Regions from separate parts of the Homo sapiens genome. Here region 1 is reported to be linked to region 2. Evidence: microRNA targets listed by miRTarBase, many of them from high-throughput screens and not tested one by one. Region 2 holds a microRNA gene; the other region holds the end of a gene's coding sequence.
The links. The annotated mature microRNA hsa-miR-760 reads CGGCUCUGGGUCUGUGGGGA and lies in region 2 at 3,948-3,967, shown strand. An mRNA with a match to its seed (bases 2 to 7 or 8) in the 3' UTR can be bound and repressed. Matches are read on the target gene's strand: a 7mer-m8 pairs with bases 2 to 8, a 7mer-A1 pairs with bases 2 to 7 and ends in A, and an 8mer does both.

Region 1 (7,108 bases), not on the chromosome of region 2:
GCAGGAGAATCACTTCAACGTGGGAGGCGGAGGCTTCAGTGAGCTGAGATTGTGCCATTGCACTCTAGCCTGGATGACAAGAGCGAAACTCCTTCTCAAAAAAAAAAAAAAAAAAAAAAAAAAAACCGGTGTGGTGGTACATGCCTGTAGTCCTAGCTACTTGGGAGGCTGAGGCAGAGAATTGCTTGAACCTTGGAGGTGGAGGTTGCAGTGAGCCGAAACTGCCACTGAACTCCAGCCTGGGCAAGAGAGTGAGACCCTGTCTCAAAAAAAAAAGGATTTCACCATGTTGCCCAGGCTGGTCTCGAACTCCTAAGTTGAAGTGATTTGCCCTCCTCAGCCTCCCAAAGTGCTGGGATTACAGGTATGAGCCACCACACCCTGCCTGGGCCTGATAATTTAAGGGCGCTCACAGCTCTCAGATTAAACGTTTCTTTTCTTTCTCAGGACTCCTTCCGCCCACCCATTCCTCCTCCCGAGTCCTTTCCCCTTCTCAAGTGCAGCCTGTAGCAGGGCCTGGAGGGGACCCTTGACACTGTGCCCCTCACCGAGAATCTAAACCCCTGACCCCGCAGTGAGTTTCTGGCAAGAACAGGAGTGTGATGGGCTTTGCCAAGCACCAGCTTGGTTGTGGGCTGTTTCCTTCAGTGACTGTTTGGCTTTTTGTCTTTGCAGGTTCTGCTTGGATTCTGCTAGACAGACCCGACAAAGACTGTCTATCAACTGGTCCAATTTTAGCTTGAAAAAAGCCACCTTTGCTGCCCACTGAATGAGGACTCCCTGGAGAGGGACACGCGAGAGGCAGGCCAGGCTGCACCACCCCAAGAGCCACGCCCCTCGCTGGCGCCCCAGAGCCGTGGTGCTTGCCAAGGGCTGTGCGGAGCTGGTGCTGCCTGAAACCCCAGACCGAGAAGTTGATGCTCGGCCCACGCCGTTAGCTCGTGTGCGTGTAGTCTGTGCGTGAGACTCCTTCGATTGTAGCTCTGTGCTGTCGGATTGGAACAGTAGTTCCCGCCAAGTCCTCCCACCACCGCGGCCTCGGAGGCCTGGGCCGTGGCCAGATAGGAGTTTGCATCATCCACGTGGCTCCGTTGCCTCTGCATTGCGCCCTGTCCTGTCATGTGTCCTCACCGGGGTATCGGCCGTCACTCAGCTCTCCTGTGCCCCTGCGTCTCACCCTAGGCGGGCTGGGCGGGGCAGGCCTCCTTTGTTCTCCACAATCTACTGTCTCCGAGTGTACACGTTGCGCTGTTTGTGTTTGATCCCCCTGACTTGTAGCCAGCTTGTGTAAGATCCCTTGCAGAACGAGAAAGTTAAAAACAAGCCCACCCAGTACTCACACCATCAAGTCTGTTATAGAGTGTACGACTGTATTAACACGGAGGCCTGCCTGGCTACTTTTTTAACATATTGTTAAGTAATATTAAAATCATGTCTTTCTTTTTGAAAGATGGAATACATTAGTACAGCAGGAGACCTCGGCTGCTTCTTTCTGCTGGGGGAGTGGGGGGATAGCGGGAGAGGGCGTGTAGGTGATGTGTCCGCCATGGGGAGCCAGGGCACCACCCCGGAGCAGGTCCCAGGTCTCTCCAGGCAACGGCTCACCCATCCTGGTGCCCCCACCATCCTCTGTGTGCCAGGCAGAGCAGGCAGCAGGAGACAGAAAGCTCCCAAGGAGCTGCATCCTGGTTACTTCTTACTACCTAGAACACTCAGTAGCTCCCACTTCTCCCAGCCTCATGTTCAGCCTGTCTCTGTGTGCCCTATCAGAGTATGACTTCACTCTGAGTGAAGGTGAATAGGGCAGGGCCTGGTTGGGGAGAGGGTAGGGAGAGCCAGCTTCTGGAGGTATTCGGACGATGAGGCCACAGGATTTCCTGGTGGACAGGATGCAGGTAGGAGAAAGAGGTGAAGACCTGCGCTGTGTGCCTGGAGGTGGGACTGGAGACCAGTTCTGGATGGTGAGTCTGGGATGTCCACCGGCCACCCAGGTGAGAGGTCTGGAACTGGGGACTGCTGTTCATGGACAGAGCCTGTGTGAGGGCCCTGCAGGGGTGAGTAGATGGGATGGGGGCCCGAGCTGTGGAACCAGGAAGGCAGAGGAGGGTGAGGAGGCTTCGAGGCAGGTCAGGGGAGACAAGGCCCAGGGCACCCCCACCCAGGCACCGGTTTGCAGGAGAATGAGGTGGGGACAGCAGGTCCTAGAACTCTGGAGATTGCACGAAAGCTGGAAAAGGGTCACCAACCAGGGGAGGTGCAGCACGACGAACTTTCCTCACTTGTTTTTTTTTCCAGGTGTGAGGAAGAGAACGTTCCTTTGTTCGTGGGATGATAGGGCAGAGAGTGAAGCAGGTCAGGCCATGACCACGGCAACAGTAGTGTCCTTGAAACCCCAGTGCAGGCCCCCGGGACTCCAGCCGCTGCCTCTTCTGGCTGCGGTGGTGGCTGGGGAAAGGCCCAGGCCCGGGCCTCGCCCTATGGGGAAGCTGCCTGCCCAGGCCCCCAGTACCTGCCCTGCTCTCCCCATGGACAGCCTTTAACACTGTGCTGAACCATGCCTGTTGCTGAGGGGAACTGCACAGCCCTGAGTGGTGATGGGGAACTCTGGGTGCCCCGACACACTAAGCATCATGCTGGGACCTAGAGACCCTCAGACGCCCACCGCACATGCCCAGTTCTGGGCACTCCCATCACCTCCATGGCAACCCTGCCTGCGGCTTCACAGCTCTGCCCGCTCTGGCCCCTGACCTGCACCTGCTAGCTTTGGCCCTCAGGCTCCCAGCCATTGTCCTGGCCATGCCCTTGCCAGGAAGGATCTTCCTCTATTTCCCTGGAAACCACTCATCCTTCCAGCATCCCAGGGTGCTTATAGGACATCCAGCTCCAGGGTCCCTGACTTGATGGGAGCCCCTGGGGTTCCTGATGACATCACTTCCCTGTGGGGGAGGGTGGGGCCGCCATAGGGGAGCCTCACATTTTTGACTCACACAGTAGCACAGGGTGAGTATCCCTTATCCCTTATCTGGCATCCTCAGTACCAGAAGTGTGTCCAGTTTCAGACTTTTTTGGATTTGGAGTATTTACATCATGCTTACCAATTGAGCATTTCTAATCCAAAAATCTGAAATCCAAAATGCTCCAATGAGCATTTCCTTGGAGCATCATCTTAACACTCAAAAGGATTTGAATTTTGGAACCTTTCGGGTTAGGCATACTCAACCTGTAATAGTCATGAAATGAAACAATAACAATAGTTAGAAAGGAAACTTTAACAGTGAACAGTTGTATTGAGAAGCTTACTGTTTTCTGCACCCTCAGCTCTGAGCCCTGCTCAGAGATTTTGCCTGGGTAGAGAAACAGGCAGTAAAACAGATAGCTCCTAATCTCTTCCCAAAGAAACTGACTTTGTTTGCAACAAAGAATGAAGAGGTTCAAGCCTGAAGGCACTCAGAAACAGTGGAGGCCATGAAACCCTGGGAAGAGAGACAAGATGCAGGCTCAGCTACAGGCCAGATAGTTTGCAGGAGGTAACTGAAGAAAAGAGCTGGGAGAAGGCATCCAGGGGTCAGAAGGAATATCACACAGTGTTCCCAGAAACTCTCTCTTCAAAGGAGTCAGAATTTGATTGGATTTGTTTGTAGAGCATGGTGCCCCAGGGCATTGTTGAAAACAATAGAATTGGCAATTAGTGGTTTAATGAATGTGGTCAGGGAAAGAGGAAGAGAACTCTACCAAAATGACTGTCATCCCAGGGTGACTGTGGGCATACGCAAAGCTACACACCCTGAGGAGCAACATCATAGCTGGAATACTAGTGGGTAGTAGAAAGAAAACAATGATATAATAAGGCTGCATCAAATGAATATAGAAATTATTTTAAAGGAACCAAATGGAAATTATGGAATCTGAAAAGTTACGTGTGTATATATATACACACACATATATATACACACACACATATATATACACACACACAGAGAGAGACAGATGGAGTCTTGCTCTGTCACCCAGGCTGGAGTGCAGTGGCACCATTTTGGCTCACTGCAACCTCCAACTCCTGGGTTCAAGTGATTCTCCTGTCTCAGCCTCCGCAGTAGCTGGGACTATAGTTACACACCACCATGCCTGGCTAATTTTTGTATTTTTTGTTGAGACGGTGTTTCACTGTGTTGGTCAGGCTGGTCTCAAACTCCTGACCTCAGGTGAGCTGCCCACCTTGGCCTCCCAAAGTGCTGAGATTACAGGCATGAGCCACTGCACCCAGCCTAAATTTTAAAATTAGCAGAAGGAAAAATAAGTGGATTTGAAGATAGGCTGATGGAGATTATGCCAGCCAAAGAACATAGAGAAAAAAATAATGAAAATAAAGAGTCTCAGAAAAATGTGGGACACCATTAAGCATACCAGCCTATGTATAATGGGAATATCAAAAGGAGAGCAAAGAGCAAAAAAAATATTCAAAGAAATAATAGTCGAAAACCTCCCAAATTGAAAAATAGTAACATGTATCCCAGAAGTTGAAAATGTTTATATTAAGAAACAAGAAAGATCTCACTCAAATCAATAAACTAACTTGTCACCTTAAGACACTGGAAAAAGAGCAAACTAGGCCTAAAGTAAGCAGAAGGAATAAAATCATAAAAATTAGATCAGAAATTAATGAAATAGAGGATGCAAAAATAATGGAGAAAATCAACAAAACCAAAAGTTTTAAAAAGGTAAACAAAATAGACATCTGTAGCAAGATTGACCAGGGAAGGATTCAAATTACTAGAATCAGAACTGGCCACACAGAAAAAGGATTTTAAAGGAATACTAGAACAATTATATGCCAGCAAATTTGGTAATTTAGATGATATCTTAGTCCATTCATGCAGCTATGACCAAATATCACAGACTGAGTAATTTATAAATAATAGAAGTTTATTTCTCACAGTTCTGGAAGCTGTGAAGTTCAAGAGCAAAGTGCACCAACAGATTCAGTGTCTGGTAAGGGCTCACTCTCTGCTTCCAAAGTGGCACCTTGTTGCTGTATCTTCATATGGTAGAAGGGCAAAAAGGGGAATTAAGGTGATCCCTTCAACCTCTTTTATAAAAGCTGTAATCCCTTTCATGATGATGGAGCACTCATGATTTGAACACTTCCCAGAAGGCCCCACCTCTTAATACTATCACCTTGGGCACTAAGTTCTAACATATGAACATATAAACCATAGCAGATGAGATGGACAAATTTCTAGACAGGAAGAAGCTACAAGAACTGACTCCAGAAGAAATAGACAATCTGAATAGACCTATAATGAGTGAAGATGTTGAAATAGTAATTTAAAACAGGGAAAAGTACCCACAAAAGCTCAAGCCTAGAAGTCTTCACTGCTGCATTTTACCATACAGTTAGAGAAGAATTAAAACCAATTTTTCAAACTTTCAGAAATAGAAGAAGGAACACTTCCCAACTAATTCTGTGAGGCCAGTATTACCTTGATACCAAAACTAGACAAAGACATCACAAGAAAACTACAGACTATTATCTCATGAATATTGATGCAAAATTCCTCAACAAAATACTAGAAAACCAAATCCAGCAATATAAGAAAAGAAATATACACCGTGATCAAGTGGAATCCCAGGAATGTAAGGGTGGTTCAATATCCAACACATACTTAATGTAATCATATTAATCGAAATTTTAATTGCATGATCATCTCAATAGATGCAAAAAAAGCATTTGACAAAATCCAACACTTTTGCATAATAAAGACATTTCACCAAGTGTGAATAGAAGAGAACTTCCTCAACCTGAAGAATGACATCTACAAAAAATTCACTGTTAATATCATCCTTAATGTTGTGAAAGACCGCATGCTTTCCCCCTAAGATCAGGAACAAGGCAAAGATATCTGTTTTGCAGTTTCTATTCAACATTGTGCTAGAGGTTCTAGCCAAAGCAGTTAGGCCCAGGCAGGCGGATCACGAGGTCAGGAGTTCAAGACCAGCCTGGCCAACATAGTGAAACCCCATGTCTACTAAAAATACAAAAATTAGTTGGGTGTTGTGGTGCGCACCTGTAGTCCCAGCTACTTCGGAGGCTGAGGCAGGATAATCACTTGAGCCCCGGAGGCGGAGGTTGCAGTGAGCTGAGATTGCCACTGCACTCCAGCTTGGGCAACAGAGCAAGACTCTGTCTCAAAAAAAAAAAAAAATTTCAGCTGGGCATGGTGGCTCAAGCCTGTAATCCCTGCACTTTGGGAGGCTGAGGCAGGTGGATCATGAGGTCAGGAGATTGAGACCATCCTGGCTAACATGGTGAAACCCCGTCTCTACTAAAGATACCAAAAAAAAAAAAAAAAAAAAAAAAAAGCCCTGCATGGTGGCAGGCGCCTGTAGTCCCAGCTACTCGGGAGGCTGAGGCAGGAGAATGGCGTGAACCCGGGGGGCGGAGCTTGCAGTGAGCCGAGATCATGCCACTGCACTCCAGACTGGGCAACAGAGTGAGACTCTGTCTCAAAAAAAAAAAAAAATTTTTTTTTCAGGGAACTTCTATCTCAGTAAACTTTCTAGGGCTCCCGTGGTGTGGGGCCTGTCAAGATATTCCTTCCAAGGTGAAGGATAAGTCGCCTCATTTGGTCCCTCCTACAACCAAGAAGATCCACAATGCTTAGTGGGTCTATTTGGATTTTGGAGGCAACACATTCCTCACTTAGATGTGTTACTCCAGCCCATTTATCTAGTGACCTAAAAGGCTGCCAGTTTTGAGTGGGGTCCAGAACAGGAGAAGGCTCTGCAACAGGTCCAGGCTGCTGTGCAAGCTGCTCTGCCACTTGGGCCATATGACCCAGCGATCCAATGGTGCTTGAGGCGTCAGTAGCAGATAGGGATGCTGTTTGGAGCCTTTGGCAGGCCCCCATAGGTGAATCACAGTGGAGGCCTGTAGGATTTTCACCCCATAGGTGAATCACAGCGGAGGCCTGTAGGATCTGGAGAAGATGGCCCTGCCATCTTCTGCAGCTAACTACTCTCCTTTTGAGAGACAGCTCTTGGCCTGTTACTGGGCTTTGGTGGAAACTGAATGTTTGACTATGGGTCATCAAGTCACCATATGACCTGA
Region 2 (7,118 bases):
GTAATCACACTCAGCACTGAGATATTTTAGGATGAAAAAGCCCTTCATTTCAATGTTGTGAGTAGATTTTAGGATGAAAAAGGCCTTCATTTCAACGTTGTGAGTAGATTTTTCTAGCAAGAAATGAGTCTTCTTAAGTCCTTAAGGGTGGATGGTACCCTTGTCTTGGGAAACCATGTGGTGGGTGGGACAAATGAAAATAAAAATGTGCCTAAGGTTCTTGAACTAAGAACTGTGAGGAATTGAAGCTGAAGGTAGATGTCTTCAGTCTGAGAAGCTAAGTGTTCTGTTCGGTAACAGAAATGAAATGTACAGCTGAGTAGGAGTGGGGTAGGGAGCTGCAGAATGTCCCTCCGGTTGCAACAAATTTAGCTGATGCTGTATCTGTACTGTCCTTTGTTTCTGCAGGATGTGGGATTTCTTTATTAAGAGCTACTTACTAATATAATAGCAAATATTTGTTACACACTTACCATGTGCCAGAACTGAGACAAGTCCTTGAGAGGATTAACTCTTGCAATTCTCATAACAATTTTATAATTTTTCAGGCAGAGAAGTTAAGGATCATGTCCTGCAAATAAAGGCTGAACCAAGATTTGAATGACAGGGTCCTGACTCCACAGGCTGTACTCTTAACTGCTACTACCACAGTTTTTGTTTGTTTGTTTTTTAAATCTCACCCTTTAAAAATTCCTTTTTAGGTATGTTTTATTAGTAGTATAATAGAGCATCCTGGTTCCTTGGGGGTCCAAACTGAAAAATTTTTACCGGTAGGAATGCCCAGTCACATTATGCCACTTTTTCACATGCTACCTTGCTTCATTTGCTTATTGCTTCATATTCATAAATCGTATTTCTCCTAGGAAATTTGGAGTGTCCTTGAAGGTAGGAATTATGTCTTAAACTTTCACTTGGTTCCCACAGTAGGCCTAACTGTATTGTCCCTACTCATTGAATTGAATAAAACTGGTACTCCAGCAACCTTATACCTCTGGAGTAAAGCAAAGCTAGTGCAAATATATACAGTAGAAGTATAGTCCATTTCCAGAGCTTCTGGGAAGGCCGAAATCACTAACCACACAGTAACTTAAAAATAATCCTGCTGGCCAGGCACGGTAGCTCACGCCTCACTTTGGGAGGCCGAAGCAGGCAGGTCACAAGGTCAGGAGTTCAAGACCTGCCTGGACAACATGGTGAAACCCCATCTCCATTAAAAATACAAAAATTAGCCGGGTGTGGTGGCACGTGCCTGTAATCCCAGCTACTTAGGAGGCTGAGGCAGGAGAATTGCTTCAACTCGGGAAATGGAGGTTGCAGTGAGCCAAGATCATGCCATTGCACTCCAGCCTGGGTGATAGAGTGAGACTCTGTCTCAAAATAAAAATAAAAATAAAACACCAACATGAAACCGTATTTAATTTAGGGCTTTGCTGTCCAGCGAACTCAAACTGCAGATGTGCTGCAATCAGCCTAATTGAAAGTGGTTATAACCCATGCTTTGACTCCCTCTGTTGGCAGGAAGAGGTTGCTTTCTCACTTGCGGGAATTCTTAGCTCAGGTTGTATAATGGCTGTTTACTACAGATACAGCCTGAGAAAATTCAGCCAGATTAGATAAGGGGAAGACAACACCCACTGAATCTTTCTCCCCAGATGGCAACTAAATACTCTTTTCATTTTTCTTACATGCTAACATTGCTACCTATAAACTGCTTAGTTAATTGTTCAGAGAACCACCACACACCTGACCTTGTTTGGCTGTGACTTTCTTCTTTTTTTTTTTTTTTTTCTTTTGGAGATGGGGTCTCATTCTGTCGCCCAGGCTGGAGTGCAGTGGCGCGATCATAGCTCACTGTAACCTCAAGCTCCTGGCCTCAAGTGATCCTCCCGCCTCAGCCTCCAGAAGTGCTGGAATTACAGGCGTGAGTCACTGCACCTGGCCCCAGTCTTCTAATTGCAGGGTATAAGAAGTACAACCTTGATAGCTCACAGAAGGCTGCACAGGGAAAGCCTGGCTTTCCCACACTGTCTGCTAACACTGTATCTCTAATATTTTCCATGATACAGGAATTTTTTTGGCTTCATCTAGTGGAATAAAATATCTAAAATTATTCGTTTGAATCATTAAGTGGAATCAAACACATACACATCTTTCCTTAGCACATTGTTTCTTTCCCAATTCCCCCTTTCCAGAATTTTTATATACGCATCTCAACTGTCACTTAATCACGTCAATGACTCCTCATCATTTGAGATTTGGCTCCAATACCCCAGGCAGAATTCCTCTGTATGGTTTTCCCACAGGCATACAGAGCATCTCTTCTCCCATTTCGGCTGTGAGCAACTCCTAAGACCAGTGGAGACCCTGAGATGCCACCAGTGCCTGGCATATTTCAGAATTCAAAAAAGATTTGTTTAAATAAATACAATTTAAAACCATATTCCATTTTAAAGGCTAATTTTATCCATATGAGAATTCTCCCTGCATGCAATGTGAAGACATTTAATTCATTAAAGGGGCATAACAATTTTATATATATATATATATATATATATATATATATATATATAAAACTTTGTTTACATTAGAGTATAATTAAATAGGCCTGGCACCAATCAGGGCTCTGCCACTTACTGTTTGGAGAAGCGATTCACAATTCGCATCCTTGCACGTTCTTCCTAGATGTGCCAAGAATGCAAGACCCTGATCACGCTTTACTTGGGCCATTTCTCAGCGTTGTGTTTGCAGCGAGCAATCTTGAGGGATGAGGTAATGTCTCCCTATGGAACAAAGAGCAGGCTTGCTTACTGCTCACTATAACATGGTGGGTTCCCCAAGCTCAGCATTCCTCTTCTGTAATGCAACCCATCTTGTGTGTAAGCATGCATCTGGGCCCGTGTGCTTCGTTCCTGTGAGAACTGGGGTCCAGGGAGCCAACTCAAAAATGGTGATACTCTGGCTATTGCTTTTGTTGTAATAGTCTTTTATCTCTGACTCAGAAGTCTGGTGTGTTCTGTCAGCATTCATGAAACCGTGAAAGCTAACGTGTTAGTTTGCAAACATAACAAAATATGATTCATCACAGTTCTCCACGCTCACTAGCTGGGCGTCCCTACACGAGTTTTTTAACCTCTCTTAGCTGCAGTTTCCCTTCTTTATATTATAAAGGGGACGGTGGTGTGTATGTACCCGCCCCATAGCTTCGTCTTGGGGTTAAGTAAGACTGTAAAATCCCTACCACACTGGACTCTTCCCAGGACTTCCCTTTCCCTCTTTGAACTCTGCCAGAGACTATTCTGCATTTGAGGCCTGGCGATGCTGGGCAGGGGCGGGTATGGGTGAAGCACAGGGTGGGCCGCGGCTGGCGGGTTTGGTGCAGAAACGGGCTGTGGCCGAGCCGAGAAAGCGCGCCCAGCGGCCGCCCTGCGAATCCTCCGTAGGCGGGGCCGGGACTGCTGTGAGCTAATAGGAACGGGGGCCGGGCGTTCGGTCTCGCCGCTGCAGTCGCAGAGCAACCACGCGGCTTTGACCGTCTATTTCAAAGGGCTTCGGGGTCTTGCGGATGGGGATCACTGCGGGCACTGGAAACCTGCCGGCCCCCACCCAGCCGCCTCTCAGATTCGTGGCGACCGCACCCTTCTGGGCAGCGGCGCCAGGCCCGCTGCCGTCCCCACCGCTCGCAGCCACCAGGAAACCCCGCGGCCGCGCTCGAGCGCGCGCCCTCCGACCACATGCACCCGCATACGCATGCTCCCAGCGCTCCCACGCGTGCTGACACCCTCCCGGCTTCCGCCCACGCAGTCGCGGGCCCCGGGCGCGCGGGCTCGGGGCAGCTGCGCGGCGTCCTTGGAGGCAGGTGCTGGCGGCAAGACGAGCTCTCGGAGGATGCTGCGGCGCGGGGCGCGTCGCCCCCCTCAGTCCACCAGAGCCCGGATACCTCAGAAATTCGGCTCTGGGTCTGTGGGGAGCGAAATGCAACCCAAACCCCGTTTTTCGAACCCCGCGCAAATAAACACGCACAAGCACGCACACAGACGTCGCGCGGCGGCGCTCGCGCGCAGGTCCAGCCGCGGCTGGGTCGGGCGCGGCGGCCGGGCGCGAGGGAAGAGCCCAGGCCCGAGAGGGGTCGCCGCTTACGTCTCGCAGCCCGAGGGGAGGCCGCTCGGCCTCGGCCGCTCACAGGCGCGACGTAAAGGCCCGGCGTCACCGGCCCGGCTTAACGGTGCAACGGCTGGCCTGGGCCTGCAACTCTGGGGTCCCGGCCGGGCTGGAGCGGCCGCCGGAGAGACCTGGTAGGCGGGGCGCTTGGGGCAGGAAGGGAGCCGGGGAGGGAAAAGCGCGACTGTGATTCGTACGGCTGGGCCCGGACCGTGAAGGGGACCGGGTTGCGGCTGCCCTCACACCGACCAGGTGGGACCGTCGGACTGCGGCCGCCCTTGGCTCAACTGGGTCGCCGACCTTGTTGAGGGGCGACCACTGCGGGGAGACCGAGAGCCTGCGGCTGGCGTTTGAGGCGGATGGCAGTGCCCTGAGCGCGGCGGCTGGGTCTCGGTGACACTGACGACGGGAGGCGCGGTCGGAAGAGCGCGGGGCCGTCGCCTCTGGCTTAACATAGCAGATGCGCTGAGACTCCAACAGGTGGCTCCGTGGCGCAATGGATAGCGCATTGGACTTCTAGAGGCTGAAGGCATTCAAAGGTTCCGGGTTCGAGTCCCGGCGGAGTCGTAACGCTTTTTTCCCTCCCCCCTACAATTTATTTTCTGCCTCCATCATGTCTCTTATTTTTTTTTTTTGCTAAACGGTTTAACTTCTCTCTCATTCCCTGCTCTCGCAGTTCACTGCATTCGGTTCTTGCGGTCCTTTCTTAAGCGGCTCGCAGGGTCCCGAGCCCCTCAGCTCCCCGGGCCTCGGTGGCCCAGGGCCCAGCTCAGCCGACTGGGCAGTCGATGTAGGTCCTGAGAAGAGCGGCGGCGGCGGCGGCGGCGGCGGCGAAGGAAAAGCGACACTGAAGCGAAGGCTCGCGGTTTCGGCCTAAAGGAAAGTGCAGGGGAGGCCCGGGTCTCGGGTGACACCCCCACGCCTTGAGCGGGACTGTGGTTGCGAGGGAGGGACGAGAAAACACGCCTACGCCCTGCGTGCGCTGTGCTGACTACCTCTCCAGCATGGAGGCTTCCAGATGAGCAGACACCCGAATCCCAGCGGGAGCCCGTCAAAAATGGAGATTTCTGCCGTCACTCTGGGACTCTTAATTCGGTCCGTCTGGGGTGGGGCCCAGGAATCTGCATTTCTGATAAGGTCACCCGCTCCCCTCCCCCATTATTCCAGTGCAAAGAGGTCCTAGGCCCAGTGCCCATCAGCTCCTCAAGACAGGAATTACTATATCTTTTTCTGACAACTGTTAACTTTGTACAAGGTTAGCAAATAAATCCAGGAATGAATGGAATCTTAAAACTCGTAAAACAACAATGAAAGGTAATTCACACAAAAGATACAAAATCCAAAATTGTCAAAAAAGATACAGGGAAAAGTAAACATCCATGTTATTCCTATAGTCCAGCCTTGCAATTCTCTCCACAAGCCATTAGTGGTAATGGTTTCTTGGAAATATTTTCAGATTTATTTTATGCCCATATCAGCATTTTTAACATCTTTTGTCATAAATATGTCGTAAATAACAATGTTATTGATACATATCCTTTTAAAAACACAATGGTAGTATGCTATACTGGCTTGTTTTACTTATGAATATATGTAGAGCTGCCTCGTTCCATTGTACGTATGTATGGTAATGATTTAACAGTCCCTAATAGCTGGACATTTAGATTGCCAGTATTTTCCTATTACAAACAATGCATCAGTGAACATCCTTGTTCTTTTATTATTGTACACAAGTACAGGTACATCTATCTGTAGGATAGATTCCTAGAAAGTTGAATTGCTGGTTCAAAGGTTTGTGCGTTCTTAATCTGTACATTTTTTAATATATATTGGCAAATTGCCCCATAGAGATTGTATCCATTTTTCTCTCCTTAGCAATGTGTGAGAGTGCCTGTTTCCCCACAACTCACAAAAGGTGGTTTCTAGCTGTGATTTTAATTCGTCTCTTATATTGATTTTTTAAAATTTGTATTTATATTATTATTATTATTATTTGAGACAGGGTCTTGTTCTGTTGCCCAGACTGGAGTGCAGTGGCACTATCACAGCTCATTGCACCCTCAACGTCCTGGGCTCAAGCAGTGCTTCCACCTCAGCCTCCCAAATAGTTGGAAGTACAGGCACATGCCAACACACCCGGCTAATTTTAAAATTTTTTGTAGAGATGGGGGTCACTCTATGTTGTCTAGGCTGGTCTTGAACTCCTGGACTCAAGAAATCCTCCCATCTTGGCCTCCCTAAGTGCTGGGATGACAGACAGGAGCTACTACGCCTGGACTGTGTCTTTTATTATGAATCAAGATGAGTACCTTTCCATACAGAGAATAATTTGTAATTTTTTTCCTGTGATTTATCTGTTCTTGAGTTGTGTTCATTTTTCTGTGGTATGATGGAAAACAGCCCTTTGTGATATATGTTACACTTATTCTTTTTCAGTCTTTTTGTCGTTTGACTTTGTTTATGGTATTTTGTTTTGTTTTTCTGTCTTACAGAAATTCATGATTCATGTATTTGGATTTATCAGTCTTTTATGGCTTCTAGGTTTGGGGCCATAATACACTCAGATTATTAAGTTATTTCTTTAATGGCTTTATTTTTATGGTTTTGTTTATCTTTGCTTCATCTGGAATGTGTTTTTGTATAAGGAGTGAAGTGGAAGTTTTGTCCCAAAATCACTTTTAATGAACACTCCTTCTTTTCTACACGATGTCATTTGAAATGCCACATTTATAATTTTTTTTTTTGAGACAGAGTCTTGCTCTGTTGCCCAGGCTGGAGTGCAGCGGCACAAATCTCAGTTCACTGCAACCTCCACCTCCCAGGTTCAAGCAATTCTCTTGCCTCAGCCTCCTGAGTAGCTGGGATTACAGGTGCATGCCACTACGCCCGGCTAATTTTTGTATTTTTAGTAGAGACGGGGTTTCGCTATGTTGGCCAGGCTGGTCTGGAACTCCTGAGCT

Region 1: the mRNA of FAM193A is a reported target of hsa-miR-760. Seed matches in the 3' UTR shown: 7mer-A1 at 825-831 and 7mer-m8 at 850-856.

Annotation. Positions count from the first base shown.
Region 1 is chr4:2,731,100-2,738,207 of GRCh38, forward strand. FAM193A (family with sequence similarity 193 member A) reads left to right here. Exons shown (of 21, transcript NM_001366318.2): 21 at 676-1,474. The coding sequence ends at 769. Among named protein-coding and RNA genes, the nearest start is that of TNIP2, 22 kb to the right of the region's middle.
Region 2 is chr1:93,842,933-93,850,050 of GRCh38, forward strand. MIR760 (microRNA 760) reads left to right here and starts at 3,900; the gene lies at 3,900-3,979. It overlaps TRR-TCT1-1 (tRNA-Arg (anticodon TCT) 1-1), which reads left to right and starts at 4,641; the gene lies at 4,641-4,725. It also overlaps a transcript of BCAR3 not described here. RefSeq lists enhancers at 3,191-3,320, 3,996-4,786, 5,001-5,050 and silencers at 3,451-3,510, 3,601-3,980, 4,161-4,300.